Linked DNA regions of Homo sapiens: region 2 is linked to region 1. Evidence: fine-mapped expression QTL. A gene starts in region 1. The other region holds a variant in brackets. All regions are shown on one strand. Distances are from middle to middle. Region 1 holds the start of R3HDM2 (R3H domain containing 2). Region 2 overlaps R3HDM2 (R3H domain containing 2).

The links.
Region 2: its variant is fine-mapped to the expression of R3HDM2 in whole blood (TOPMed, PIP above 0.99).

Annotation. Positions count from the first base shown.
Region 1 is chr12:57,429,521-57,432,431 of GRCh38, reverse strand. R3HDM2 (R3H domain containing 2) reads left to right here and starts at 1,389. Exons shown (of 24, transcript NM_001394031.1): 1 at 1,389-1,712. It overlaps R3HDM2-DT (R3HDM2 divergent transcript), which reads right to left and starts at 1,316. Exons shown (of 2, transcript NR_185976.1): 1 at 1,002-1,316. RefSeq lists a silencer at 1,488-1,957 and an enhancer at 2,138-2,247.
Region 2 is chr12:57,274,525-57,277,435 of GRCh38, reverse strand. The region is part of intron 14 of R3HDM2 (R3H domain containing 2); the gene reads left to right. Among named protein-coding and RNA genes, the nearest start is that of STAC3, 25 kb to the right of the region's middle. The variant C/T (reference allele first, on the strand shown) is at 1,247.

The DNA.
Region 1 (2,911 bases):
AAAAAGTTTAAATCGTGGTGAAAAGTGGCAGGTTAGATCAGTTCAGTTCAGTTGTATTTTTCTTCCCCCGTTGTTGTTCTCTAGAGGGTTGAGAGAATTTGGGGGCAGGAGGCAGTGATGACCAGGAGAGAGGGCTGGGCAAGGTGGCTCACACCTGTAATCCCAGAACTTTGGAAGGCCGAGGCGGGTGGATCACCTGAGGCCAGGAGTTCGAGATTAGCCTGGCCAACATGGCAAAACCCCGTCTCTACTAAAAATACAAAAAATAGCCGGGTGTGATGGTGCGTGCCTGTAGTCCCAGCTACTCCGGACGCTGAGGCAGGAGAATCACTTGAACCTGAGAGGTGAAGGTTGTAGTGAACCGACATTGCACCACTGCAATCTAGTTGCCTGGGTGACAAAGCGAGACCCCATCTCAAAATAAATAAAACAAACAAACAAACAAACAAAAAACGCCAACCAACCTGGAACTTGCTCATCCTTGAAGGAAAGATGAACTTCATGCCTCTATGACTTTGCTGGAATCTCCATTCTTACCTCTCTAGTGAACTATTTATAGTCTCAAGATTAGCTGGAGTTTCACCTGTAGTTTCTCTGTAACTTACTCAATCTCTTTTACCGCTAAGAACGAATTGCTGTTCCTTGTGTTTCCATAGCACATTTAAACCTTTCTATTATAGCACTTAAATTGTACTATAATTATTTGACTTTTTTTGCCTACCGCAGTTTCTGTCACAAGGTAAATATTTAATGGTCGAATTCTACAAAAGACTACATTGCTTCTTTGAGGGAGTTTGGTCAGTAAATTATCCACACACACATAATCAATAACTAAATTGATTCTGCCTAGAATGGACAAAACGGGGGAGGCTGGACATTTAAGACGATTTTTGAGAACTGTATCTTAGAGAGGGGATGATGGTAAGAATGTGATCTTAATAGGACAGACTGAGTTCCTCCTAGGTCGGTTTTTTTCATCTTTACGTAAAATGGACATTTACCTGCTCAACTATAGTTATCCACGTATGCAACAAATACCGAGTGTACGTTCTTTTGGTACAGGAGTTACTGCCCTAAGTGAAAGTGCTCTGTAAATGGAAATTACTTTAGAATGATCACTATTAGTATTATATTGAAATCCAGGGTATTCTATCTGACAGACTTGAAGGGTTTAAGGAGGACCGAGGCTCCCAGTGACTCCGGATTGGTGTCCTGACACAGGTAACGCGGAAGGAGGAGAGGGCGAGCGAGCGAGTGCGAGTGCGCGCGCGCCGGCGGGAGTGCGTGCGGCAGGCGGTAGGCCCCGCAGGGCTGCTGAGGGGCACGCGGGAAGCCAGGAAGCAGGGACGGCCGGAACGCAGGACGAGGTGACGACAACGCCGGACGTAGTGACGTAGCGCGCAGCCGCAGCGGGGGGCGGACTCTGGGCTTTTCTTCCCCTTCTGATTTTCCCCTCCCCCCTTTTCTCCCTTTCCGGGTTTGGTTCCCCCCTTTTCTTCCCCTCTCCCCCCTCCTTCCCAAGCCCCTTTCCCCTCCCCCGTCCCAGTCCCCCCTGCTTCCCAGCCCTCGGCCCCGGGGAAGCCCCGGCCGAGAAAAGCCCGCCCCCAGAAGCGCGCCGCCGCCGGCCGTCGGGGCCGAGCCGCAGCCGAGCGGCCGTGGGCCCGGGCGGCGGGCGGAGACGTGGGCGCCCTCCCCGCCAAGGCCCGTGCGAGGTGAGGCCACCTCCCGGCCGAGGGGGCGGGCGGCCCGGACGGCCTGTGGGGAGGGGGCGTGGCGGCCGCACGGGCGGGCGCGAGGAGGCCCCGCGGCCTGGGTTCCTCGCGCCCGGCAGCCGGTCCCGGGGACGATGGGTCAGGGTCGGATGGCCGCGGGAAGGACTGCTCCAAGTGTGCGCTGCTGGAGAGAAGCTGGGGGCGCGGGGCGGAGGGCGGCGGTGCGGGGGCAGGGGGGTGGCGCCACCTGTGGCCTTTGCGGGGTGACCTAAAAACTATTGCGCCCTTCCAGTGCTTCGGGGTGGCTAGCTCCGTGTGTTTCTTGGGTGGCGGTTTTCCTTCGAGCGTGGAGCATGGAAAAATAGGACGGAGAGGTGTAGAAGTGTTTAAAATCATGCTGGTGTCCAGGTTTCTTACAGGGACGGGGATTTGAGTTGGCACATACAGGGAGATGTTTCTATAGCTTAAAACTTGGGCCTACACTAAGCTCATAACTACTCGAGCCCCTGAAAACGCTTCGATTCGTTTTCCCGTAGAGCTAACATTTTTCAACATTTGTGGCCATTAAGTCTCGGAACTACCAGGAATACTGACTTAGAGTGAATTGTCATTGGATAATGATGAGAAATGACCGAATAACAATCCCAGAACTGCGTTAAAACGGAAGAAAGAAAAGTGGAAAAGTTTGAATTCAGATCCCAGTTGGATGAATATCCTTGTACATAATGTTGTTCAAATAGATAACTAAGATTGAGAAGCCTGAGTCCTGTCTGATATGCGTAAGCCACGTGGAGACTCAAGGAAGGAGGAAAGTGACAGGTTTCACTTCAGGAATATCACAAATTCCTAGCATTTTCTTGTATTTTTAGATAGATTTGCAGTTGAATTATTTGTGGCTCTTCTTCCTAATGCTTTTTTTTGTTGTTGTTCCACCAATATTCCCCCCCCACCCCCGCCCCCCTTTTTGTTGCTGGGGTATCAAGACAAAAGGTTGTATTTTGTTTTTTGAGACAGGGTCTCAGTCTGTCACCCAGAATGGAGTGTAGTGGTTCCTTTTCGGCTCAATGCAACCTCTGCCTCCTGGCCTCAAGCCGTCCTCCTACCTCAGTCCCCCAAGTAGCTGGGAGTACAGGCATGAGCCACCACTCCTGGCTGATTTTTGTAGAGACGGGTTTCACCTTGCTGCCCAGGCTGGTCTG
Region 2 (2,911 bases), 150 kb after region 1:
AGGAAGGGTTGTTACCTTTAACTCTGTCACACAAGGCACTTGCCCCAGGTCTGGGAACAGTACTGACTAAACTATGATCTTTCCCTTCCTGGCAGGGCTCCTCTGTCCAAGCAGGCCTTCAAATTGTGTGTCGGTGAAGCTCGTGAAACCAGGGGTGAGGCTGAGGATTAAAGGGCCAGGATCTCCCTTTTGCCCAATTTACTTAAAATGAAGTAGACTTCTTGAAAAGGAGTTCTCGGGGCCCCCTTTTGTCATCAAGAGCCAGTGAACAAGCCCAGAATTTGCCAGTAGGTGGCAGCCACATCCCTCAGGGCAGTCTTTTTTTTTTTTTTTTTTGTTCATTATTTATTTTTCCATAAGTTATTGGAGTACAGGCAGTACTTGGTTACATGAGTGAGCTCTTTAGAGGTGATTTGTGAGATTGTGGTGCACCCATCTCCCGAGCAGTATACACTGCACCATATTTGTAGTCTTTTATCCCTTGCCCCCTTCCCACTCTTCCCCTCAAGTCTCCAAAGTCCATTTTATCATTCTTTTTTTTTTTCTTTTGAGATGGAGTCTCGCTCTGTCACCCAGGTTGGAGTGCAGTGATGCACTCTCGGCTCACTGCAACTTCCACCTCCTGGGTTCAAGCGGTTCTCCTGCCTCAGCCTCCTGAGTAGCTGGGATTACAGGCACGCACCACCACGCCCAGCTAATTTTTGTATTTTTAGTAGAAATGGGGGTTTCACCATGTAGGTCAGGCTGGTCTCAAACTCCTGACCTCATGATCCGCCCACCTTGGCCTCCCAAAGTGCTGGGATTACAGGCGTGAGCCGCTGTGCCCGGCCCATTTTATCATTCTTATGCCTTTGCGTCCTCATAGCTTAGCTCCCACATATCAGTGAGAACATGCGATGTTTGGTTTTCCATTCCTGAGTTACTTCACTTAGAATAATAGTCTCCAATCTCATCCAGGTCACTGCAAATGCTGTTAATTCATTCCTTTTTATGGCTGCATAGTATTCCATTGTGTGTATATACCACAGTTTCTTTACCCACTCATTGATTGATGGGCATTTGGGTTGGTTCCATGATTTTGCAATTGTGAATCGTGCTGCTATAAACATGCACATGCAAGTATCTTTTTTGTATAATGACTTTTTTTCCTCTGGGTAGATACCCAGTTGTGGGATTCCTGAATCAAATGGTAGTTCTACTTTTAGTTCTTTTTTTTTTTTTTTTTTTAGATGGAGTCTCACTCTGT[C/T]GCCCAGGCTGGAGTGCAGTGGCACGATCTTGACTCACTGCAAGCTCCGGGTTCATGCCATTCTCGTGCCTCAGCCTCCCGAGTAGCTAGGACTACAGGCAACCGCCACCACGCCCAGCTAATTTTTTGTATTTTTAGTAGAGACGGGGTTTCACCATGTTAGCCAGGATGGTCTCGATCTTCTGACCTCATGATCCGCCCGCCTTGGCCTCCCAAAGTGCTGGGATTACAGGCATGAGCCACTGCGCCCGGCCCTACTTTTAGTTCTTTAAGGAATCTCCACATTGTTTTCCATAGTGGCTGTACTACTTTACATTCCCACCAGCAGTGTAGAAGTGTTCCCTGACACTGCATCCATGCCAACATCTGCTGTTTTTTGATTTTTTGATTATGACCATTCTTGCAGGAGTAAGGTGGTATCACATTGTGGTTTTGATATGGATTTCCCTGATCATTAGTGATGTTGAGCATTTTTTCATATATTTGTTGGCCATTTGTATATCTTCTTTTGAGAATTGTCTATTCATGTCCTTAGCCCACTTTTTGATGGGATTGTTTTTTTCTTACTGATTTATTTGAGTTCGTCGTAGATTCTGGATATTAGTCTTTTGTCAGATGTACAGATTGTGAAGATTTTCTCCCACTTTGTGGTTTGTCTGTTTCCTCTGCTGTTTTTTTTTTTTTTTTTCCATGCAAACGTTTTTTAGTTTAATTAAGTCCCAACTATTTATCTTTGTTTTTATTGCATTTGGTTTTGGGTTCTTGGTCATGAAATCGTTGCCTAAGCCAACATCTAGAAGGGTTTTTCCAATATATTATCTTCTAGAATTTTTAATTTCAGGTCTTAGATTTAAGTCCTTAATCCATCTTGAGTTGATTTTTGTATAAGGTGAGAGATGAAGATCCAGTTTCATTCTCCTACATGTGGCTAGCCAATTATCCCAGCACCATTTGTTGAAAAGGGTGTCCTTTCCCCACTTTATGTTTTTGTTTGCTTTGTCAAAGATCAGTTGGCTGTAAGTATTTGGGTTTATTTCTGGGTTCTGTATTCTGTTCCATTGGTCTATGTGCCTATTTTTATACCAGTACCATGCTGTGTTGGTCACTATAACCTTATAGTATACTTTGAAATCAGGTAGTATGTTGCCTCCAGATTTGTTCTTTTTGCTTAGTCTTGCTTTGGCTATGGGGGCTCTTTTTTTGTTCCATATGAATTTTAGAATTTTTTTTTTGTAATTCTGCGAAGAATGATGGTGGTATTTTGATGGGGATTGCATTGAATTTGTAGATTGCTTTTGGCAGTATGGTCATTTTTACAATATTGATTCTACCCATCCATGAGCATGAGATGTGTTTCCATCTGTTTGTATCATCTATGATTTCTTTCAGCAGTGTTTTGTAGTTTTCCATGTAGAGGTCTTTCAACTCCTTGGTTAGGTATATTCCTAAGTTTTGTTTAAATAAATTTCCTCATGGTTTTTCAGAGCTTCCCTGGCTTTGTAGTTTTACACCCTTCAAGAAGAGAACTATGGCTGAGGATAGCTGTGGAGTAACTAAAAAAATAGCACTGCTATCCCTGCCCGTATCACTGCCCTTCCCCAGTTAGGGGAGGCCTAAGAGGAGCATCACTTCTTCTCACTTTACTCTTTAGTCAGAACTTACAAG